4 separate regions of the Homo sapiens genome follow, and regions 1, 3 and 4 are each linked to region 2. Evidence: fine-mapped expression QTL. A gene starts in region 2. Each other region holds a variant in brackets. All regions are shown on one strand. Distances are between the middles of the regions.

Region 1 (6,223 bases), 600 kb after region 2:
CAGGGGGTTGCACAGTCCCCAGACCTGCAGACAAACCAGCCATCTGATCATCGGAAGCCATTACACATTAAAGCAGAAAAGACTTTCCAAAAGGACACTAAGAGTTAGAATAAAGAGACCTCCAGCAGGCTGTATCTGAGGCTTTAAGCATTAGAGCAAATATTGTGAAGCACATAACTCCAAAAAAGCCTCCCTTGTAAAGAATATTCAATATCTGTAAATCATCACTTAGAAATGCAGCCCAGATTTAATGAAATCTCCCCCCTGGGAAGAAATAGCAACATCAGTCCTTGTTACATATTCAGCAGACAGCATTTACTTATTTATTTGATGTGCAATTAGGGGGGCTTTTATGTACACTTAGATGCACAATTAGGAGCACTATGGGGTCCCCTCTGAGGCATTAGGAGAAGGAACCAGAGTAAACGGCCTGCCCCCCTGTCCCTAAGCAGCCGCGGTGGCTTCCAGTGATTCCTAAGGGTATTTCGGAAGCAGGGGCATTGGCTCTGGAAATTGATGCATTACTTTCACTCCCCCGGATTAGTAAAGATTTTTGAATGAAATGAGATGATGAGACAGGAAGGGAAAATAATATTTACAGGAAATATTCCATTAACTTGGCGTGGACTCCCGGCGGCATTGCCCCGCTAAATTATGCGGTGCGGTGTACGTTCTGCCGAGTGCGCCGCGGATTTATCGTTCTCTTCTGTCGGCGTTTGCCTTGGCTCGCTTTCTCCTTGCTGGGCCTCTGACTTGACCGGCCTAGGTGGCTGCCTCCCTCATTCCAGCATCCACATTCCCCTTGGAAGCCACACCCTGTGCACACCTGGGAGAAACACTTCACTTAATGCACTCAGCATTCTTAGCATTTTGCAGCTGCCCCTTACTCATTCACAGTGTAGGACCAAAGGGCCTTCTCGTATGTTATCATTCTTTCAGATCGCAGCACAGTCTGAGTGGACCTGAACGCTTTCCATGCGTCTAGAGACCAGGCCTACTTGGCCGCGGGGGCGGGCGGGGGCGGAATTTGGGAGTAGGAGGTGGAGGGCATGGGGAGTTCCCAGAATCTGCTACTTAAAAATAACTCTCCAAGGACAAAAGGAATCATATTCTAAGAAAATTGAGATCGTCTTCTCAAAGCATCAATCCTAGACATCCTCCTTCTCAAATCACCAATATCAGACATGGCTGAATCATCTCCATTTGGAAGAATAATCCCAAACTCTAAAGAGTGGTCATCGGCTGGGCACGGTGGCTCACACCTGTAATCCCAGCACTTTGGGAGGCTGAGACGGGCGGATCACTTGAGGTCAGGAGTTCGAGGCCAGCCTGGCCAACGTGATAAAACCCCGTCTCTACTAAAAAATACAAAAATTAGCTGGGCGTGGTGATATACGCCTGTAATCCCAGCCACTCAAGAGGCTGAGACAGGAGAATTGCTTGAACCCAGGAGGCAGAAGTTGCAGGGAGCCGAGATCACGCCACTGCACTCCAGCCTGGGCAACAGCAAGACTCCATCTCAAAAAAAAAAAAAAAAAGAATGGTAATCACCTGAAAGCACTGAGCTAGCACTTAGAATTCCGTACAGGGTGGTGAATATGAAATCCTCTCCAATAAAATGGCCCCCATATGAGTATTCATGGGGGAAAGTCAGACTCGGTGAGTTTCAGTGGCAACTGACTTGAGTTTGCTTCTGCTGATGATACAGAGACAGGACCATGGGTCCAGGAGGCAGGATACCAGCATTTCCATGTGGGCCTGGCTGAGCAAGAGACTCAACTCACCAAGGCCGGTTTCTCTTCTCCCAGTGCTTCAAAGCAACCCTCTATCTTGCCCACCACATGGGGGTTTATGATAATATGGGTTGCTATCAATATTGAATGAACTGCTTTAAAAAAAAATGAATAAAACTAAAGCACTAAACAAACATAAGGCATTTCCAATTACAGACAACACTTTTGAAAGCACCCTCTGTATTCCTAGACTTTCTAGTTCTCTGAAACCCTAGGAGTTGTTGGTGAGGATGTGTGACTCTTCCTGCCTGGAAGTTCATTCACTTGTTCAGTACGTGTTGTCCGAGTGCCTGTCAGGTACCAGGCCCTGCTCTTGGCTCTGCAGAACAAGAGAGACTATGTCCCTGCATGCACAGAGCTTACAGTCTAGCAGGAAAGGCAGTCAAATTTATTTATTAAAGAAAGCTACAGCAATAGTGTTCGAGCACTAAATTCTCCCATCCAAGTACTAACCGGGCACGACCCTGCTTAGCTTCTGAAATCAGACAAGATCAGGCGCATTCAGGGCAGTATGGCCATAGACCTGAGAGTTAAATTCTACGAAGACAATAAATCAGAGTAAGGAAGAGCGGGAGGGGT[G/A]ATGGCTGGTCAGGAGGGGTCTCTCAGAGCTAGGGCCGTTTCAGTGACTCTCTACTCCCGAGTGTTGTACATACGATTCCCTGGGAAGCAGTCTAAGATGAACTCGCATGCAGGAAGTTTACTGGGGTGTGCCCTGGACTAACAACAAATGGTAAAGTAAAGGAAGCAGAACCAGGCAGAGAGAGAAGCTGATGCAGTCCCAACATGGCGCCCTCAACCTAGACGAAACTCGGAAGCTAGGATGACCCCGGAGCCACCGCCATCACTGTTGAGGCTGGGGGCCAAGACTTACCCCCTCCCCCCAGCATTAACCAATCATTAGATCCAAGTGACCCCCTTGGCAAGAGGGTGGTGACCTTGGGCAAGGTGGTTCTCTGTAGCTGAGACGATTCCGGGAGAGGGCGTACGTCCTTCAGTCCTGCAGGGAGAAAGAGGCTGGTCGGTGCTGCATGGTATCTTCTACAGCAGTGGTTCTCAGTGTGGTCCTTGGACCAGCAGCATCCTCATCACATGGAAATGTGTTAGAAATGCAAACTCTGGCCAGGTGTGGTGGCTCACATGTGTAATCCCAGCACTTTGGGAGGCTGAGGCAGGTGGGTCACTTGAGGTTAGGAATATGAGACCAGCCTGGCCAACATAGCGAAGCCCCGTCTCTACTAAAAATACAAAATTAGCTGGGTGTGGTGACATGTGCCTGTAATCCCAGCTACTAGGGAGGCTGAGGCAGGAGAATCACTGAAACCTGGGAGGCAGAGGTTGCAGTGGCCGAGGTCGTGCCATCGCACTCCAGCCTGGGCGACAGAGCGACATCGTGGGACCCTGTCTCAGAAAAAAAAGCAAACTAACGGCCAGGCTAGGTGGCTCACACCTGTCATCCCAGCACTTTGGAAGGCTGAGGCAGGAGGATGGTAGCAGTTGGAGACCAGCCTAGGCAACATAACAAGACCTCATCTCTACACACACAAAATACAAAAATACAAAGGAGTAGTCCCAGCTACTTTGGAGCCTTGAGGAGGTTGAGGCTGCAGTGAGCCAAGATCACACCACTACACTCCAGCCTGGGCAACAGAGCAAGACTCCATCTCAAAAAAGAAAGAAAGAAATGCAAACTAAGGATCCCCGCCTGAGACTTACGAGCTCAGAAACTCTGAGGATGGGACTCCGCAATCTAATTCCACAAGCCTTGAAGGTGACTTGAGCACAGGCAGTGGAGCTTAAGGCCCACTGCTCTGCATACAGGCAGTTAACGAGGACCTTTCTATGAGATCCTACTTCGTTGTTTTGCTGTTGTTATGAAGACATTTTAGTCTGAGTTAAAGTCAAATTCTTTCCTAGAGCAGTTACACTTCTAAACAAAAAGAGAGAGATGTTTTGTAAATTCACGACCTTCATGACCTCCATATCCACTCCAAGACCCAAAACAGAAGTTTCTTTTTTGTTTTGTTTTGTTTTTGTTTTGTTTTTTTGAGACAAGGTCTCACTCTGTCTCCCAGGCTGGAATGCAGTGGTGCCATCATAGCTCACTGCAGCCTTGACCTCCTGGGCTCAAGCAATCCTCCCACCTCAGCCTCCCTAGTAGCTGGAGCCACGGGCGTGTGCAACACACTCGGCTAATTTTTGTATTTTTTGCAGAGACAGGGTTTTGCCATGTTGCCCAGGCCCCCAAAGAAGAATTTTCTTGACCAAAGAATTTTGGCGCTAACTCACTTCCTTGGCACTAACTCACTTCCAGTTTATTTTAGAAAGTCATGATTAGCAATTTATTTAACCTCCCTGTGCCTCTCTTTTTATATCTGTGAAGTGGGGACTAAGAGACACAGAATAGATGTAGTCTAATTTTCTCCATCTTGAATAAGTTTACTTGTCACAGAGTTTCTCATTCCCCAGGATAAAAGTGGCATTGGCCTTGACATAGCAAATATTGTTACAGTCATTTATACTGAAAACAAGAGGTGGGATGGCCTCGAAAAGCAAACAACGTCTCTTTGTGAAGAGGGTTATTTTTTTGTTGGTCACTGGACCTGGGAAGCCAGGGTTCCTCGGTTCCCACAGGGCCCTGGGAAGGCCATCCCGAGACTGGTCTGGGTAAGCCAAGCTCCCAAGGGCACCAGCCTGTATCTTGTGTTCTTGTTGAAGCCCATGCTGGTGTCAGACTGTCACCTTTGAGGAAGGTTGACCTGTCTATGAACAGAAAAAAAAAAAGCATTGCCCTGTCCAGGTGAATAATTCTTAGAGAGCAACTATTGCATGAGAGTAATTAATCTGGAAAGTCACAGGAGGGGAGGAATGTAATTATCCCCTAAAGAGGGGCAGGTCTAAATCTCTCCCAGGGTGACAAGCTTGGAGGCACCTCCTGGAAGGGGTACACTCAAGCTCCAAGAATCTCCCCAAGTTGTCTCTGAAGTCAGTCTCCAGGCCTGACATACCCTTGGGGTGCTGCACGCCTGCCCCTGCCCCCTGCCATTATTTGCCGGATACCTGGCCCAGCAGTCAAGACACCTCACAATTCTACACAATTGTGAGCCACTTCCCTGGGCCTCAGTTTTCTTAACAAGTCGGTTGATGAGATGATCGGGAATCCTGATGTTGAAGGAATCTTAAAACTAGAAACAAAGAGAAATAAAACAAGGTAAATAAAGCAAGCTCATTTTAAAGCCAGAGGGGAGTCATGAATGAAAGAAAGGATGAAAAGCAACAGTTTTCCAGAAGAAAGTGGTAGGAGGGGAAAATGCCAGTTTCTAAGTAGGTAACCCCACGTCTGTCTTTGACTCCCGTGGAGCCAGTGCTCAAGCTAGATCTGATTAAATAACCAAAAGCGGTTTTCCTACTGCAGCTGATATGTCTTTGGGGATATGTGTCTCCCAGGATTCATCTGCTTCCCACACAATGCCTGGTCTCCTCGACCTGCTGTTCTCCCTGCCCCTGAAAAGGCACGTGGACCAGCACTGAGAAAGGCCATATAAATAGCCACGTTGATTGTGTGGACAGTAGGGGTCAAACACAACACTTGGTATTTATAACATGCAAATAAACACCCAGCCAGATGACGTAGCAGCCGCCCTGAGACTGGCTGGCTTCTAAATAACTCTACAGATGCAGATTCCCATTACTCAGGGAGCCCCGTTGACCTTGGATGCAATTTGAAGAAGCAAATCAAAACCAAATGCTATCGTTGGATCCCAAACCACTGCAGAGGAGCATCCAATAGCCTCGCTCGCTCCAAAAGAAGCCATGAACCGGTAGTAACCTATGAACAGATCTGGTTTCTCTAGCTGGAAGACAGAAGACTTTGCTAGGATAATAAGAACATCGACCACCTGGGACTGAATAGACAAATCTCCTTTTTTTTTTTGAGACAGAGTCTTGCTCTTTCACCCAGGCCAGAGTGCAGTGGCACTATCTCAGCTCACTGCAACGTCCGCCTCCCGGGTTCACACCATTCTCCTGCCTCAGACTCCCGAGTAGCTGGGACTACAGGCGCCCGCCACCACGCCCAGCTAATGTTTTGTATTTTTAGTAGAGACAGGGTTTCACCATGTTAGCCAGGATGGTCTCGATTTCCTGACCTCGTGATCCGCCTGCCTCGTCCTCCCAAAGTGCTGGGATTACAGGCCTGAGCCACCGCGCCCGGCTGACAAATCTCTTTTATCTCCCACTGTTCCTTTGAACATGCTCTTCCTTTATCTCTCAATAAAAACACGGGCAGTCCCATGACTTTTCTGATCACTCCCAGGTATTACAACGTCACCCAGTCACTTTAAATAGCAAAATAAGCTTTTATTAAGAAATTAGAGTGTCCAGTTCTTTATGACAATCAAAGCTTCAAACTTGCTCTAAAGTTAAATCTCTCC
Region 2 (6,223 bases):
TGCAACTTTTGACACTGAATGTTGTGTGAACGTATATGCTGTTACCAGACTCAGTGTATGTGTTTCCCAGATTTACTTGGCTCCTCCTGTCTTCCCTGGGCAAATTGAGCCACTTGCTCATTGGGAATCCCAGGTGCTGCCATTGTCATTTCAATTCCTGGCACTGCTAGCTGTCCTAGCCTCCCAGGACAGAACAGGGAGGGTTTCCATCCCACACACTGAGGCAGGAGCCTCACCACCCCAGGGCCCAGGTCCTGTCTGACTGACTCACAGAGGCTATGGTTTCTTCCTTATCTTCTGGGCTCAGATGCAATGCCTTTCATGCCTACCTGCGGGAGTTGGTAACATAACCCTGAAGCGCAAGAGGGTTAATGTCTGATGGAATCAATTTGACCAAAAAGAGTCAACTAATGGACAGCACTAGGCTGTTAGCTCCCTCTCCCTTCGTCTCCTTGATGGGTTATGCCAAAAACTGGAAGTTCCATACCTGTCTGGAAGCTCTTCCTCAGGACTGAGTAGCTGTCCTATGCCCACTTTGGTCAACCCCACCTTGTACCTGCTCTCATTCCATCCCTGCCTCACCTTCCCCACACCCCCACTCTTGCCACCCTGAAATTGCACCTCCCAATGATGTCTTCTTGCAGAAGATTTGCTGCAGGCTATTTTCCAGAAAATCTGGGCTGCAATTCAAGCAGACAGGGGATGAGGCTTTCCAGGCAAAGGAGCCATGAGTGAAGTGCTGAGAGAGGAAGGCGGGTGTTCTGGGGGCCAACGTCAAGGGCTGACACAAAATCTCTCAGGCCGGCCTCTGCAACCTAAGGATGTCCCAGACTGTCCCATACCTGAGGCTGCTCCTGCCTGTCTCTCCTCAGGGTTTGTCTTTTCTCTGCCCATATCCACCAGTTGCAATAGCTCCAATATTAACGTTTTTTCTTAGCTTTGGTTATTTTCCAAACACATAGTCCATGTAGAATCAGAAAGCAAATGTCCTGAAAAAGATGTTCTGCTGTTCCTGAAGTTCCAGTGCAAAAGCTACAAAAAAAAGAAATGGTAAGCCCTCCCTACTCTGTGCTATCCAAACTATTTGGGATTTTTTTTTTTGCATTTCTTACATATTATCTTGTATCATTAATGATTCTACCAGATAAAAAGTTCCTTGAGGGCAGAGGTACAAAGTCGGCATTCTGCAAATATCAGTTGAATACATTTAGAAATCCATCTGAAAAGTTAGGATAAGGTCCCTTAAATCACTATTATAGACCTGTTCCTTAAATCATTGTTATTATTTTTCAAATGTGACTATACATATTATTTTGAATAGTATTGCAATCCACCAGCACAGTCAGAATGTCCTGACAGTTCTGTGCAAGGCCACATGCATGCGACTCAAGTCATGCTTTGAATCTCCAGGCACCTGCTGGCAAGGAGGGTTGCTCTGGTGTTCCGGGGATCAGTAACATGAGACTCCATCCACACACTGTGGAATCAAGGTTCAAGCTCATTGGGCCACTATAGGAAAAACAAAATGGGAGAAAATTTTTCACTCACTTATTTTATTTTGTTTTATTCTTTTCTTTTCTTTTTTTTTTTATTTTGAGACAGAGCCTTGCTCTGTTGCCCAGGCTGGAGTGCAGTGGTGCGATCTCACCACAGTGCAACCTCTACCTCCCAGGTTCAAACGATTCTCCTGTCTCAGTATCCCAAGTATCTAGGAACACGGGTGCCCACCGCACCCGGCTAATTTTTGTGTTTTTCATAGAACAGGGTTTTGCCATGTTGACCAGGCTGGTCTTGAACTCTTGACCAGGCTGGTCTTGAACTCTTGACCATAGGTGATCTGCCCACGTCAGCCTCCCAAAGTACTGGGGCTACAGGCGTGAGCCATTGCACCCAGCCTTCACTCATTTATTGAATATATTTTAGTACTTACTCTGTGCTAAGCACTGTGATGAGCAAATACTTTTTATTTTTAAATTTTTTTAGAGACAGAGTCTTGCTCTGTCCCCCAGGCTGGATTGCAGGAGTGCAGTCATAGCTCCCTTCAGCCTTAAACTCCTGGACTGAACTGATCCTCCCACCTCAGCCTCCCAAGTAGCTGAGACTCTAGGCACACACTACCATGCTTGGCTAATTCTTTTATTTCTATTTTTCTTTTTTTTTTTTTTTTTTGTAGAGATGAAGTCTTGCTATGTTGCCTAGGCTCACCCTGAATTTTGGGTCTCAAGCTATCTTCCTGCCTCAACCCCCAGAAGTGCTGGGAATGCAGGTGTGAGCTCCCATACCTGGCCCAAATCAATAGTTTTAAAAGTATAAGTAATAAAGGAACAGTAGCTATGCTCGTGCACAGGAACATGAAAGGTCATTAATTTCTTCCCCCTAGTTTCTTATTTCGAAAACTGTTCTCTATGTTTCTACATTTCACACTGTCTAGTTAATTTTCAGGATTTTTTGGAGCCATTACAGGAGGTGAGTAAAGGAAGAAATCAGAAAAGGACATACTAGAAGTATCAGGAATAACCATTTTTAGTTGAATACATGGACTCCAGAAGAAGATACAAGCTTGACAGTGCTCATGAAAAGATATCTAATTTTCTTAAGTCTTTGACTCTGGAAAGCCCTTTGAGCTACCCATTATATAACAAGATTCGGCAGGTTTTTTCTTTCTCCCTTCATTGACATCTTCCGGGGAAAATGCTGCATGATATGATTTTCAAGGCTAACTTGCCTTTTCCTGTTAAGCAGTGTCCCTTGTGACAAATTCACCTCCTATGCCTCCCTGAACTAGGGAGGCTCCTTCAAAATTCCTAACAGGCAGCCCTGTGGAGAGATGGGAGGGAAGGGATGGGAGGGAGGAAGGGCGGGAGGAAGGGAGGGAGAGAGAGGTAGAGTGTGTCTGTATGCGGCGTACATGTGGTACAGCCAGGGAGATCAGAACGCTCACAGAACAGGCAGTGCAATTCCATGTTCCTCTTAAGTATGTTAGCCCTACCGGGAGCTGAGCTGGCCAGTCTACTTGGAGAGGAAAAGTAGATCTGGGGAAGGTGGAAGGGTCAGTTCCTAAGTGACTTCCTCCTCGGGGATGGTAAGGGCATTTGCTGATCTCCAGTGACTGCCTGGTGCCTCATGGTCAGACTCGGCTGTCTCACTCCCAGATATCTGATTTTGCAAAAAGGGACACACCTATCTGCAGCAAAGAAGACACTGACCAGATTGCGAGCGGTATGTTGTGACATTCAGCATGTTTATGCAGCAGAATTGCTGAGAGATGCAGAGAGAGGGGGTGGCTCGGGCTGCTTGATTTATCTGCAATAGGGAATGTTTTATTTTAATTGTCAGTTAAAGGAAGAATTGCTGCCAGGGCGAAGGTAGCAGTTAAACATTCCGTGTTCTAAGCTTTCACGTTTGTGTTTGATGCGGTCTCCCTGTCTGTGCCGCTTTGCGAAGCTAGGGAGGGCTCACTTTTAAATAACCTGCAGCTTCCTATTTTCCTTCTTCTTTTTTTTTTTTTCCTCCCTAAGCACAGTTCCCACCCTGTCTTCCCTGACCTCCTCCCCACCCTGTGTGAAAGGTGGCCTATCTTCCCCTTGAGCCTTTTGCTCCCTAAGTCTGGATTTTGGCTGCTTTTTCTGCAGGTGCTTTTGGATGCTCTGTAGCCACCCGGGGCCCAGGAGGACTGACTCGGCAGCAGGATTCGTGCATGGGAATCGGAGACCATGGCAGTGCAGCTGGTGCCCGACTCAGCTCTCGGCCTGCTGATGGTGAGTGTTCAGACAGGAGGTGGGGCCCGGGCAGCGTCCACTCCAGCCTCCCCTGCACCGTGGGCTGCTGCTGCCGCTGCAGTGGCTGCAGACATGTTCAACATTGCTCCGCTTTATCCCGCAGGCTCTTTGGAAATGCTTTCTTGGGTCAGAGTATCAGCATGACAAAGCACTTGCAGGGAAAAGAAGCTGTAGATTTGCCATTTCAGAAACTTGTTGCTGAATGCTATTTTGAGAGCTGTGCTTGCAAACAGGTGCTAAGAGCCCCTCGAAATAGATTGCTAGGATGCCTCCTCCAGCTCCCAGCATCCTTTCCCCCTTGTCTTTTGCATCTAAATTGAGCTGATTGTGTTTGTTTTTGGATATCTTCTCAGGGCAACTGTGGAATCTGTTGCCCATGGGGTGACAGAATGGGGTCTTCTTTCTAGGCGCCCATATATCTGCTCATACTTTCCTGTAGAGGTGGTGGAGGAGGTTCACTGTGGCTTCAGTGATGCTTGGGCTACTGAGTTGGGAGCAGCTTGTTTCCTATCTACCATTGATGGCCAACCTTGGCAGGACTTGTCCAGGCATTTATCTGTGTGTGAGCAGCTGACTCACCTTATGCCCCTCTGGAATTTTCACCATATTAAGAAAGCCCTAGCTCTTACCATATTAAAGCACACAAGGACATGGGCACTGTCTTGTTCCAACCCAATTGGCTTTTGGCTTGACACTAGGTTCAGCAGTGGCTTTTGCCATGGTTTTGCATCTCTCTCCTTTCCCAGGGTTCCCACACACCACGGTAATACTGGCTGTTGTCGGAAGTAGCCTGCATCAGGCTTGGCATGGAAATGTTTCCAGCATTTACACAGGAGATTTTATGAACCAAGCATAAGTGCTTCTGTGTATATTGATTTGTGTCTTCGGAATGAGGAGGGGAAATGCAACTTTGCAAGGCCTGATGAGTTTATGGAGGTGACTTGGAAGAGCCGTCAGTGGGAAGCCTGCCCCCTGGGTGGCAAGCCAGGTCATGTTAAAAGGAACAGATATCTTGGTTCTTCGTTGCTCAAAATTCCACTGGGTCCACAGATTTAGTTGAATTGCCTGAAATCTATCTCATGGGCCTCTGCTGACTTCTCATTTCACTGGGGGAGTAGGACTAGAAGAAATGAAATTGTCAGTTTCCAGAGAAATTACCCATTACCTGACTTCTTTCCCTTACTAATTCTATCGTCTGATGATACTTTATCCTCCATCGTCTACCTGTGGTCAAATAAACTGGATAGGAATTTTCATTCCATCACTGAGTATTCGTGATGATGGCTGGCACTAAAATGCATTATCTATGGGGTCTAGGAGACTTCTGGGAACCTGGGAGCCTGGGTTATATGCTCTGAAATACAGGCACACATATGCACACACACACACACACACACACACACACACACATGCATATGTATATTATATTATCTAGTACACTAACAGAAATAAATCCTGCATCGTGTTAATATAGAGGAGAAAAGTTTTCTTGAAAAATATCTTTAGGGAGAGTTAGACCCGCTTGTCTCAGCCTCCTACTTGGACCTTTCTTCTATACTTAGAAGAAAGATGTGTATCTGCTTTATTCCAAGCCCCTAAGCATGAATCCTTGGTATCCAAATTAAATGAATAGCATCCATTTCTGCTGTTATACACCCCCCCCCCCCACCCACACACACACACAGGCTCTTCTGGTCCTGGGTCTTCCACATATTATGGCTGCTGTCCTGGTAGTGTCTACATCTCAGACTTCACCTTCCATTTGTCAGTGGCCTCTGCCCTTAGATCTGTCCCTGGCACTCTCCTCCTGCCCGGAAAAAAGGATCGTGTTCTCCTCTCTTGGAAACCAGGGGAAAGAGCTCTTGACACCCTGATGGACCGTTTGATTAAAGAACCCTGGAGTACCATGTGTAATCAAAGTCTGTATACATTTTCTGGTTCATGTTTAGTTCAGGGAAATTTTCCCCTATGGACTTTGGTGCTATTTTTTTTCCTTTTTAAGGGTAAACCCCAAAGTAATTGCTTCCCTGACATCTTGCATGATGCATCTTAAAATTTATAAGCAAGCCGAGGAGGAAAGAAAGGAGGAAAAGAGGCCATTTAGCGGAGTTGCTTTGGCTGTGAGTTCAGGAAGGAAGCTGTAAACATTATTATTTATGAGCTCATTCATCAGCCAATCAGTTGTCAGTATTTATCGCGTGTCTGCTCACTGAGGAAAGTAGCCTGGCATAACAGCAAGAGCCAGAGCTCATAAACACACAGTCTGTGGGAGGCTGATACCAGGTTGGTGGATTGCAGTTCTGATTTTGTGCTATGGAGTCATCGGGGCTAAGGGGTAGGTGGGGAGATGATCTGGCCACACCCCTTGCTTTTGGATAAGGAGACACCCAGAGGTTACATTCAGCTTAGATGCTAAATGCTTCAGGGCAGAGCATGTTTAATTG
Region 3 (6,223 bases), 320 kb after region 2:
TGGCACAATCTCGGCTCACTGCAACCTCCGCCTCCCAGGCTCAAGTGATTCTCCTGCCTCAGCCTCCCGAGTAACTGGGATTACAGGGATGCACCACCACACCTGGCTAATTTTGTATTTTTGGTAGAGACGGGGTTTCTCCATGTTGGTCAGGCTCGTCTTGAACTCCCGACCTCAGGGGATCCACCTGCCTCAGCCTCCCAAAGTGCTGGGATTACAGGCATGAGTCACCCTGCCTGGCTGGGCTGGCCATGGTTTTCTCTGGGACTAATGGGTGTTTAAGCCCACCTCTTGTCCTTGCAGGGTGCCTTGTGGGTTTTTTGCTGGGGATCTCTGGGGATTTATCTCTGCAATTCCCTGGTCCAAGAGATGTCTCTCTTCCAATAAGCCATTTCAGGCACCTCTCTTTCCCTGAGCCCCACACCCCTCTTTTGTTTCCCTCTCCCTCCTCCTACAGCCTGGAGGTGAGGTCATTGAGGGATTTCAAACCTGCTTCTCAGACACCCCTTGTGCATGTCCTGCTTAGAGGCCTAACTCCTTGAGTGGCGTGTGGGAGAGGGTGGGAATAGTTGCCATCTATTGCCTGGAGCCCTCAAACGACACTGAGAAAGAGCCCGCTTTTAATACCCTGCAAGATGTTACAAGGAAGTATGGCTCAAGATGGAGGTTAGGACAGATATTTACAATGTCAGCCTTGGATTGTTTCTGTTTCCTTCATGTAAGTGGTATTTCGCCTTTTTTGCAAAGGAAAGAATGATAAGGAACAAAATCAGAAAGGCCCCTTAGGTCACCTTCCCATCTCTTTCTCCAGCTCACCATCCTTTGCCCCTTCTGCTGGGGCTCATGGTGGCCTCAGCCTGCCTTCTGCCCTGGGAGTGTCACGACAGCATCTATTATACAGTGTGACCTCAGTCACGTCCCCAGCTGAAACCTGTCTGTCCTGTGGCCTGTCCTTTCAGTATTCTGCCAAATGAACAAAATAAAGCAATGAAAATGAGTTTATTTAGTGCCAGCAAGTGGCAGTTCTGAGGTCAGATGCACATGTGAGTGGACTTCCAGGGGACAGACAGGCCAGCCTCACTAGTGGTAATTTCAGGCACTGGGCAAAAGATTGGACAAATAGTTGAGGCCGGCTCATCAGGATCACCCTGGGCTGCAATGACCAGGCTGCATGTCCGTGCCAGCACCCAGGATTCCATCAGGAGATCATTTACCCTTCACGTGGCTTTTCAGCATGCATCCGCGCGGGCACTGGCTTCATCTATGAGTCTGCTCCTGTGACCGTGCATACACGTTGGCTCGGCAGACTCTTCCCCCTCCTGCTGCTGCCTCCATTATCACCAACACTGCAAAATGTTCTCTCTCCAATGGAACATTCCCCCCATTCCCGCCACCCCTTTCACACCCTGCTGTTCGTGACCAAGAACACCCATTTGCTTTGATACATCTTGCTGTGGCATGTCAAGACCATTGACTTTCCTGAAACCTGGCTCAATGGATTCCTATGCATTTTCCTTCCAGGGTTTTAATGCAAACATTTTCATTGAGACTGGAAGGAAATGTTCAAAGCAAACAAACAAAAGGCTTTGCCAGCCTTAAGTGTGCTGCTCCCTGAGGCATCAAAAGCAGCAGCTTCGGAGAGTCTAGAACTGAAGAGTGTCTTCTACATCTCCCTCTCCTGCACACAGTTTGTTGACTGCCCCCCATCCCTGAGGCATCTTTCCCCCCTCAACTCCCACCCCACATCCAGCAGCCATTAGGCCATTCCTGGATGCTGAGGGTACCGTGTCATCCACTATCCTGACAACAACCTGCTCTTTCTATGTAATATTGTTCCATAGGTTTTCCTCTTGCTGTTCTTTTTTTTTTTTTTTCCTTTGAGACAGAGTCTCATGCTGTCTGCCTCCCAGGCTGGAGTGCAGTGGTGCAATCTCAGCTCGCTACAACCTCCACCTCCCAGGTTCAAGCCATCCTCCTGCCTCAGCCTCCCAAGTAGCTGGGATGACAGGTGCCCACCACCATGCCCAGCTAATGTTTGTGTTCTTAGTAGAGACGGGGTTTCACTATGTTGGCCAGGCTGGTCTTGAACTCCTGACCTCAGGTGATCCACCTACCTCTGAGTCCCAAAGTGCTGGGATTACAGGCATGAGCCACCGTGTCCCGCCTTCTCTTGCTGTTCTTTTCAGTTCACCCTTAATTCACCATTTCCCATTCCTTTGGTCCAATGTCTCGGTCCCTCAGGGCTGGCCCAGAGCCACATATACTCAGATCTATGGCTCTCCCTTTCCCTGCCCTGCCTATATGGCTATTTCCACAGTTCCCTTTCAACTGGCTGGAAGATGCTGCCAGGAGATTGGAAGGCAGATGGAAAGAAGGGCCAGGCATTTCTCCTCACCTCCCCTTGACCATGGATGAAGGCTTCAGCAGCGGCTGAGTCTCCCACTGGATGGGTCTCCAAGGTTCTAGACTCCACTAGGTGACCTGGCCCCTGGCTCTAATAACTCGGCTCCTCCCTTGACCCCTTAGGCCAGCCTCCCTGCCTCCCCCTTTGTGGTTCTTAGCCCCTCCGTCCCCTGTGCCCAACTCCTGGTGACATCAAAGCAGCAGCTCCAGAAACTCTAAAATTGCTCAATCTAACAATTTCCTATATTGACATTCTCTTCTTTTCAAAGACAGAGTTTTCCATTTTCCTGTTGGGTTCAATGGATGTATCTTCCTTTGGGATTTCCAAACTGCTGTAATCTGATAAAGTCCTGTAGGACAGGCAAGCTGGGCCCTGAAATCACACCAGTTGACTTTGGTTTTCATCCTAGCTCTGACATTTCTAGCTGTGCTGCCTTGGCCAACTTACTAAGCCCCTCTGAGCACCAGTTTCTTCACCACTGAAACAGGGATAATGAAACGCATTTCCTCCATGGAAGTAGCCTTTGATAACCTCACAGCACATGGCCTGCCAATGGGTAGGTGCTCAGTGAACATTCATTCCCCTTGCTTCTCCTAAAGTGGTCATAACTGTGAGAGTATGAATGCATATCCCTTCCGGGGAAACATATTTGTATTCTAACAATGGAAAGAAATACTTGGCCAGGCATGGTGGCTCATGCCTGTAATCCTAGCACTTTGGGGGGCCGAAGCGAGGAGATTGCTTGAGCCCAGGAGTTCAAGACCACCCTGAGCAATATAGTGAGACCCTGTCTCTATTTAAAAAAAAAAAAAAAAAAAAAAAAGACCTAAACTCGACAATTAATTTTGAATATGTAAGTCTCCGACACCCATGGCAAGACAATCAGAAAGATATTTTTGGACCAGCAACCTTTGAGAGCCTTGAAATCACTCCAAGGAGGGGGTCACCTACTCCGCGGGGACTGGGGAGGGCTCCATTATCTGGGAGGAGGCTTTTGTGCTAATATGAAAAGTGATCCTTCTCCCCGCCTCCCAAGGGAAGGATGTGGAATGTGTGAGACTCAGATGTGTGGGAGTCTGGCCCAGGGTTATTTTTGTTACCATTAACATTCTCTTCTATATGTATTTTAACCTTAATCAAATGCATGTGTTTTTGTTTTATTTGCACTTAGTTCATCAAAATGTCCCTTATGATCTGAACTATGCCATAAGCCTAAGCTCCACAGTGAAACACTCATTAATACCCCTGGGAAACAGGAAGT[T/C]GCATTTAGTCAAATGTAAATAAATTCAGCTCCCCGGGGCTTTGCCCTGGCCTGGGTCAGAGAAGAGGACAGTGGCTTCTCAGTCCATCTCATCATTGTCCCCCCCACCGACCCCAAAACTGAGCTGGAAGAATGACATGCCGTGACTCTCAACAGATAAAGTGTTCTGAAAGTGTGCCTATCCTTTGTTCAAAACCGTTACAACGTCAAGTGCAGTTTTACAAAGAAATGAGTTTCTCTTGCTTTGGCTCAATCATCGGGTATCGTTCCAGATTTTTTCCCACCCCCCGCCAATGCTCTGAAACCAGGCAGTGCAGGCAAGAAGCAAGAAAGAGAGAAAAAAGAGATGTAAACCTAAACCACCTCACCAAAGACGCCGTGTGAGCCGTGGTTAAGAGGTTTCCGTCTCCCCGTCTCTCTCACCCTCTCACTGACTCTCCTACTGCACACATGGAACCAATTACGAACAAAGCCCAATTGTTGTATATTTGGAATTTCCCACATCAACCTGATGCTTTCTTTAACTGACTCGTGATGTGTGTCTGCGCTGGAGGGCTGAACCCAGGTTTCCAGCCCGTGCGCTGCTGCCGCCGCCGTGGCACCCTTCGCCTCTTTCTTCTGATTCATTTTCTCATAGTACAAAACTCTGCTTCTTTCCTTCGCACCCCACCCCCATTTCCTATTAGGTGTGTTTGAATAAACAGAACCTTCATTTCCGTCATTTTCAATGAAGTAAGCACACTGGTCTGCAGACAGTGTCTCAAAGCTGGTGCCCAGAGCGTATGAGTGGTATCAAGGCTAATACCAAAAACCACGGGATGATTACAAAGGAAATGGCCATCCCTTTCATAAAACTCAGAACAGACAGAAGCAGTGTATGTAGAAATGCTTTAAAAAGAAAAAGAAAAAAAAAACCCAAACATACCCCATATCCTGGAAGCACCTTACTTGATTTTCTTTGTAGTAATTTTTTCTGCTATGGAAATAAGCCGATTTCAGGAGGAGTAGAGATGGGGAAGGTAGGGGAAAATATTACAGAAAAGTTAACGTTTGAGACCATTTATGCCATCCATCAAAGAAGGCTGTGTGATCTGAAATTACACAATATGATCAGAAAATAATTGACAGACGTGATGGATGAATCTGCTTCGACACAGCCGTGTAAAACGAAACATAATTTCTTCTTGTTTACTGGCACACGTAAAAATAAATGTTCTATAACACAAACATTTAAATGAGAAGGTGCCAAACACAAGCCTGTTCGATTTGATTTGATTCATCTGAACCATGTGATTGCAACAGTTTCTTCTTCTTTCCCTCATACTTTCTCTCTGTGGACTGTATTCACATATACAGTGAGTAATACCCGTGCGTTTATTTTTATGCGTTAGAAAGCAGGAAGGGTAAACAGATACGCATGTCTGATGCTCAGTTTTATAGATAGAATTTATGATTTCAAAGAGGTCCCTGATGTGTTCTGTCTGTGGTCTTCAGATATTGTTCCTCCGTTCAGAAGGGAGTGAAATCAGAGTGTAGGATTCTGCATTAATCTCCACTCCAGATGGTGATATTCCAAATAGTCTTTTTAAGGTGAGCATGTGACCTACTGTACGGCCGAGGGGCTTGGGAGTCACGTGATGGAATGAATAATACGTCTGATAGAGCTTTGATTAGACAACTGACCTGATTACCATCTGCAGCCACGAGAAGCAAAGTTGACATTTCTGGATCACTCTCCCCAGACGCGTCACTTGCCCACAAGCGGGACACGGCAGTCTCGCTGAGCCAGCTGTGCAGAGGGACAGATGGAAGAAAGCTAGAGATGCTGCTTCGTGGGCGCTGAAGTTGCAGAACTTGGGCTGGTTTTCTTTCTTCCCATCCCCCCTCCTCCTGACAAACCACATCTTGACTCAGATGGTCGAAAGAAAAACTCTTTCAGTTATTTGATATTTGGGAACCCTCCAGGAGACCATAACTTATTTTTGAGGGAGGCTCCTTCTCTCCCTTTGCTGGGAACACACACACACACACACACACACACACACACACACACACACACACACAGCTGTACACCATGGTGGTTCAGGCTGCAGTGGCTCCGAATAGATCCCAAAGACTTTTACTGAAAATTCCTTATGGATCTCTGAGAAGGCGCAGCGTTGAAAGGGTAAGCTACGTGGCGGGTTGTTTGCTTCTCAGTTGCTCCAAAGACAGGAAGATGTTTGTTTTCATTGTATACCGCGTTACTTCTGTTACTCACGTTTCCTGAACAGTTGGAGTTCCTGGGACTGTAGAATACTATCTCATCTGTAATTTTAGTTTTTTAACAGATAATGATGAGAAACCTGAAACAGTAATTTTTGTAACTTGTGGATCTCAGATGGGGGAGGGGTGCTCTTAGAGATGAAATATGAGGGAAAAGATTGGGATGGAAACTTCCCCCTGGAATGGGTTTGAAAGATTTGAGTGCTTGCTGAGAAATGCATGGGGGCTGTGAAAATGATTTCTTCTGTGTTTACTGAAACATACTCATTAGAGCAGCAGGGCTGTGAATTTCT
Region 4 (6,223 bases), 680 kb after region 2:
CCCAGATCATGTTTGTGTTAGAAACAAAAATTTCATCAACAGTTTAAGAAACTACTTACATGTGCCAGTATTCGTTAGTTACATATGAAAAACTCAGTTCAACAAGCGTAAGCAAACAAAAGCGTGTACCAGCCGATGTCACTGGAGCCCGGGCTGGCTGGGTCTCCTTCCATCTCTAGCTCTGCTTCCTCCTCCTGTTAACCTAGTTCTCAGGAGGAAATGACATCCTTGTGGTTTCAAAGCTGCTCAGGCACGTGGCCACCTTTGAACCAGGGATTTTGATCGGGGGACTCTCATTGGCCCGGCCCCGTTGGGTTCCTTGTCCCCTGGCCCCCACGGGAGTGAGGATGGCGCCATGGTGGAGAGCACCACCAGGACCACGTGGAGTTAGGGAGAGACTGTCCCCCTAAGAAAAACATAGGACCCCTGCAAGGCCCAACCACCTCTCCCATTAGAAGTTTTTCAGTCAGGCACAATGTCAAAAGTCAGCTTAGGGTGGAGACAAAGTTTGCAGGACAGGTGTCCCAGAATCATCCACATACCACCTACATATAGTAATACCCATGGCCAGTGTCATAATCAAGGGCCTTTTCTTACTTTGCTTCTGAAGCTGGTTTATTTCTGGTGCTCCAAACACAGGACTCTCATTAAAATCCACCAGTATATGCACAGATGCCTTGTGATTTTCCAGCTTTCATGGATTTTAAGGCCAGATGAGAAACATTTACAACATCCAGTTGTTCCTAGAGAGGTTAGCAAATGAAATAGAAAGCTGGGGATGACTGATGATTCTCAATCGTGAAGCTGTGTTTGGTACCGAAATGCTCCTAAAACTCACCCGCTCTGAACTACTTTGGGTTAGGGTCCCTTCCTGTCACCCATCCCTCACCACTCCCCATGGGGAGATCAGTTGCAGGAGAGGAATTCAAAGGGCTCATTCAGGATCATTGAAGAGAGGCTGTTTTTCCGAATCATGATCCCTAGTAATGACTATTGGCTTCCACATATCTATGATTGCTTCTTAAGATTTAAGAATTACTTCTACCCAACCTAAATGGTGATACCTCCCTAAAATACTTAAAAAAAAAAAAAAAAGCCTTTTATTTTCTTCTATAGACTTTCCTATTTTAAATGAACACACTTTTATAATCACAAAACAATGCATGTTATTTAGAATAAAGCAAAGTCATCATTGATTTTTTTTAAACTTTTAAAACACAATTCAAAATACCACCGCAGTTTCACTATAGGGAAAACTCACATTTTGAATGTTCTTCCAGGACAGAATAAAAATTTCCTAGTGACATCTGTTAGCCCTGGGGTCTCACGGAGGACAACCCGGGCAGCTGTCGTGTGGGAAAAGTCCCCTGAGGAAAGCCCAGAGGTTCTGGCTTTGGCTGCATCTGAGAATCACCTGGTGGGGAGCTTTGACAGTTCTCAGCGCTCAAACACACCCCAAATCAATTGGGCCCAGGCATGAGTATTTCTGGGAGTTCCCAGGTGCTCCCCGGATGCAGCCACGCTGAAGAACCACCGCACTGAGTAAGTTACCTTCCATTTTCCTCCTTCACAAATGCTCTAGGTTTCAGGCGGCCCCTTTGTGTGGATTCTGGGGGCCTTCTGTACACACAGCACTGTTGAGGGTCTCAGGCCTCACTGCTCCGAACAGGAAAGACTCGTGATTAGCACAGGGCCCTGTCAAGGTGAACATATCCTTCTCAGTGCAGGCCTGGCTGAACCCATCCTCCTCCACTAACTAACTGTCTCATCTCCTTTCTTGGGCCTCCCACAGGAGCTACAATGATAGCTGTTTCCTGGATTCCTCCCTCTATCCAGAACTAGCTGATGTCCAGTGGTACGGGCAGGAAAAAGCCAAGCCCGGGACCCTCGTGTGAGCCAGCCCGGCCTAATCTGACCGCCTCAACGCCATTCTGAGATCACCTCACTGCCTCTCATTTGCCTTACCCAGACGCACCGTCACCCTGCACCAGCTTTGGCCCTCAGCACTTTTTTTCTCCTGTCTCCGCATTCCCTCCCCCTTGAAAACCTGACTGAGGAGACATTCTGGAAGGTTCCGGTCCCACTGTGTGTCCCCTGGCGCTCTTGCCCATAGAGAGCCAGACACCAATCCTCAATGGCACCTTGGTGGCTTCCCTCTGCCATGACAGCCCCTAGGCCAGGAACCATCAGGGGGGCCAGCCGGCATCCAATTCCTGCGGATAAGTAGCGTTGGGAGAGAACGGGAAAGGGGACTTGAGTTACAGGGTGACCCAGAAAGACGATTCAGCTGTGTCCAGCCTGCCACCCATACGTAGGCCAACCAAGCACTTCATGAAGAGGAGGCCTCGTGGCATATTCAGTTTACACCTGAAATATTCCTTGATGGGACAGCTTGTGGGGATGGCTATGGGGGAAGGGGAGGTTGAGAAAGGAAGTTCTCGACACCAGAAATGCATCGGAGGACCACAATCAGTTCTATGCTGCCAAAGATTAAAAATAAATAAAAACATAAAAAATTAAGAGGGGCCAAGAGGAAGACATTCTTTCTGCAAGGAAATTTCTTTTAAATTCTGAACTGCTACTACACACAAGTGAAAGTCAACCCTATGTAAACTGGTGTCCTCTCTCTAGCCCTCTCCCTTACTGGCCCACTTCTCTCTCCGTAGAGAGCCTGAAAAACTGCCCCAATGCCACGGTAAAGGCGAGGAAGTCTTGGCTGGCGTTGCTGACTCACAGTCGCCATCCATCTGGACACAAAGAGAGACCTGTGGGAGTCGTAGAGGGTACTGTTAGCCCCGGTCCATGCAGGGGGTTCAGCCGAGCCCAAGACTCAAAGCTGCTTTCCTTTCAGGATTTGTAGTAACGTAAGGTGATAATGGCCAAAAGTGGTTCTCTCTCATTAAACCAACCAGTAAAAGCGTATCCTATTTTTTTGCACAAGGTGTTTCATTTTCGTTTTTATGGGAAACCAAGGGAAAAGCACATTGCGATCCATTCAGTGTTTAACTGTCGTGGCTCATTTTCTGTTCGTTAGCACTTGTGTGACAAAAGAGCTCAGATCCGACTTCTCCTATGTGTCACTTATTCCAAGAACCCAACTATGCCCTTAGGTAGAAAGATTTGACTCGTGTGTCTACTAGCCAACAGGCAGAGCAGGGTTGAAAAAAATATCAGCTCCCAAAGGGCCCATGTGTCTACATCATCAGTTACTGTCATGCACCACATTTGTGTGCAGATACCAAAAGAGGAGGAAAGAAGAAAAAAATTAATGTGTGGGAGCTGCACGTTTACATGTTTTGAGCTATGCTTCAAACACAACTGGAAAGCCATCAATCTTCAAAGGCCTCAAAAATACTTTTATAGTAACAAGTGCACGACTTTAGTTGGGTTATTCAAGATGGCACAAAAAGGTTTCCGCAGAGGTGGTATGCTGTGCTTTTGGCGCAAGTGGTGGGGGGATGGGGTGGGGGTGGAATTTTTTTCTCACTCTAATGACTTCCTATTGGAAAGGCATTGACAGCCAGGGACAGGAGCCAGGGTGGGGGTAGTTTTGTGGGAAAGCAGAACTGAAGTTAGCTTAAGCATAAAAACAAAGAAAAATCTTCGCTTTTCATGTATGTGGAATCCAAGAATAACCATAGGCTCTACCAGACCAG[A/G]AGGGTAAGGATGGACACTAAAATGAAACAAATACCAAGGTATTCCTTCTGCTGCAGCCTGGAGACCACCGAGAGTCGAGCTGGGGCACACACACACCTGGCCGGGACCCGGCAGGGACAAGGCGGGCCGTGGCCTCCTCCACCAAGTCTCTCTAGACAATTCAGGGCCTGCTTTCCCCAGCTCCATGCATGGCTGGACTGGTGATTCCAGGGTGCAGAAGGGATTCATATTCCCAGAACGCTTTAAGTGTACACCTGCAGGATAAAGAGATACCGGTTACATTATTAAATGATTCTAGGGATTCACTGGGGGATATTTTTGTTGCTTTTACTTTCATGGTTAGAGCTACAAAGAACAGTGATTTTTTTTTTTTCTCCCTTCCCCATTCAGAAACATTATACATTGGGCCATTTTTCTTTCTCCCAAAGAAGATTCATGGATAGTCAGACTGAACTGTGTGCAACAGGAAAAGTCAAAAGGGAAAAGGTAGCTGATGAGGTTACATGGTTACATGTTCTACATCATGCATAGTAGCTTGAAATCTAGTCTGGAGAAAACTGGATCAAGATTCTAGCCCACTGGAGTTGCAAGGAATGAGAGGCAAAAATTCTAAAGATTTGGGTTATATTTTCAACTTGGGGGACAGAGAGAAATGGAGAGCAGGAATTACAGTTCCAACAAACATCATGATAGTCTGGTAGTCAAGACAGAGATTAAGTAAAACAGGTTTTACTGTTTAGCTGAGTTCAGTTAATACAAAATGTACATAAAACGTTAGTCCTTTGAGACTGACATGATTAATGATCAGTGTGGTGGGAAATGATGTAGTTATTGTACACAAGCACTTGCAAACTCTTTATCCCTATTTCTTTAAAACAAAATAAGGTGAAATACGAAGTCCTTGGTCTGATATAAAGCCCCTATTGGATTCTTCGGATGCGTAAAAGAAATTGCCTGTTTCAGCCAGAAGACTGGTGAAAACACATACATCAGACTATGTTGTGAGCCAGGTTGATTTTTTATTTTATTATATGCAGGTGAGTGTTGAAACTGTTAAAATTCCAATTTGTTTTCATTCAGTATTAGTTTAGTTCTAAATATAGCAAACCCCATCCAGGTGCTATCAGATGACCAGTTACTGCTTAGTTAACTAGGTGTAAAGTTTTACATATACATTAATGTCAATAGTTTATTACAAGTTGTGTAAAATGGACTCTAGTTTAATAATGGGGGAAAAAAGATTAGGTTGCTCCTGAAACTGACTGTAGAGCATGTAAAATGATTTTACTGGATTCTGTTCAACTGTAATCAATGAAAAAGATGTACGTTGTAGACAAAGTTGCAGAATTAAAAAAAGAAATCTGCTTTTAATTTATTCTTTTTGTATTAAGAATTTGTATAGTACCTTTACATTTTGCAAAACAGTGTTGTCAACACTTATTAAAGCATTTTCAAAATGAAAAGATCCCAGCTGCCTCCTGGAGATTTTGTTCCTTTGTCTGTCAGCGATAAATGCTTGCGTGTGCACTGGGAATCTGTAATTCAGGTGCTTGTGTCCTCAGTGGGCTCCTTTATTAAAGTCAATCTATAGATGGCATTTTTATGAGCTTGCTAGATGATACAGAGAAGCTTGGTTTGTTCAGCTGAGGTGAATTCCCTCTTATTCTAGTTTCCTTCTGTTAACTGTGCAAGATAATATTGTCTAAATTATGTATTCCTGCTACTACAAAAAAGGACTTGAGATTAGAGGTCAATCTTTATGAGGATACTATCTCAGCCTTTGCATCACTATTCACTGCAAACGGCTCCCTGTGTGTAATATGTGCCAGCATGTGTACTGTCCCTGCAAGACAGTCCACGGCAGGAGCAATGAAGGAAGCTAGGCTTTGAGGGATCGTCTTTAGTCTCTCCATGTTGTCCCTCATTCCATGTAGGATGCAGAGGGTCACTCACACAGGCTGCTCAGGCTCTCTGTGACTACCGTTAATCCTCTGTGCTCACACTGCAGCTCAAACCCTGCCACTGACTCTCTAAATCACATCACGAGAGCCAAGCGCCTATGGGGACTGCAAGTACAAAGAGTCCCTGACTTACAGATGAAATGGTGACTGACTGACTTGAGTAGTGACTGCTGCAATCGAATCCCTGGCCCCCTAACTTAATAGGCATCTCCTCCTAGCAAAACTGGAAGTCTGGCCTCCAATAGCATCCCTGCATGAAAAACTCCTGGATGGGAAGCCTTACAGAAGCCTTGGCCACTAGAGCTAGTTGATGCTGCCGAAAAGGAAAACAATCCACTGAGAATCACATCTGGAAGTGAGCCCATCAAGAGAGTGTTCTCTACTTCCTACACCCTAAAAACTGCCCGTGGGAGAGCCTGAAGCCTCCTCTCCTTGGGGAAGCAACCAGGCCATCTCAAAATCATCTACACTTGAAAAAAGACAAAGGGCCCTCACGTAAGTCTTCTACATGTAAATATGTCACAGCTCAGGAAATTAGCGTATCATCTTCTCATTAAGCTCTACCACATGAAAGCAACTGGTAGATAGGAAGATCCTCTTCCCAT

Direction of the effects. Positions count from the first base shown, and alleles are read on the strand shown. Sizes are in standard deviations (SD) of each study's normalised expression. Not every link is listed here.
For the expression in stomach of the gene that starts at base 2,892 in region 2, A is the low allele of the variant in region 4 and G is the other (small effect, 0.26 SD a copy in GTEx).

The links. PIP is the estimated chance that this variant, and not a neighbour inherited with it, causes the effect.
Region 1: its variant is the best candidate, but not a certain one, in a credible set for the expression of FRMD4A in whole blood (TOPMed, PIP 0.52).
Region 3: its variant is the best candidate, but not a certain one, in a credible set for the expression of FRMD4A in whole blood (TOPMed, PIP 0.73).
Region 4: its variant is the best candidate, but not a certain one, in a credible set for the expression of FRMD4A in stomach (GTEx, PIP 0.89).

What each region holds. Positions count from the first base shown.
Region 1 is chr10:13,723,889-13,730,111 of GRCh38, reverse strand. All of the region lies in intron 12 of FRMD4A (FERM domain containing 4A), which reads left to right. It overlaps LOC105376426 (a long non-coding RNA gene), which reads right to left. Exons shown (of 4, transcript XR_001747371.2): 3 at 4,851-4,975; 4 at 1-2,790. It also overlaps the pseudogene RNA5SP301. Among named protein-coding and RNA genes, the nearest start is that of PRPF18, 140 kb to the right of the region's middle. RefSeq lists an enhancer at 1,070-1,924. The variant G/A (reference allele first, on the strand shown) is at 2,373.
Region 2 is chr10:14,327,593-14,333,815 of GRCh38, reverse strand. It overlaps FRMD4A (FERM domain containing 4A), which reads left to right and starts at 2,892. Exons shown (of 25, transcript NM_018027.5): 1 at 2,892-3,219; 2 at 3,633-3,758. The coding sequence starts at 3,714.
Region 3 is chr10:14,007,669-14,013,891 of GRCh38, reverse strand. All of the region lies in intron 2 of FRMD4A (FERM domain containing 4A), which reads left to right. Among named protein-coding and RNA genes, the nearest start is that of FRMD4A-AS2, 19 kb to the right of the region's middle. The variant T/C (reference allele first, on the strand shown) is at 3,666.
Region 4 is chr10:13,642,605-13,648,827 of GRCh38, reverse strand. FRMD4A (FERM domain containing 4A) reads left to right here. Exons shown (of 25, transcript NM_018027.5): 25 at 1,793-5,122. It also overlaps a transcript of PRPF18 not described here. Among named protein-coding and RNA genes, the nearest start is that of PRPF18, 59 kb to the right of the region's middle. The variant A/G (reference allele first, on the strand shown) is at 3,657.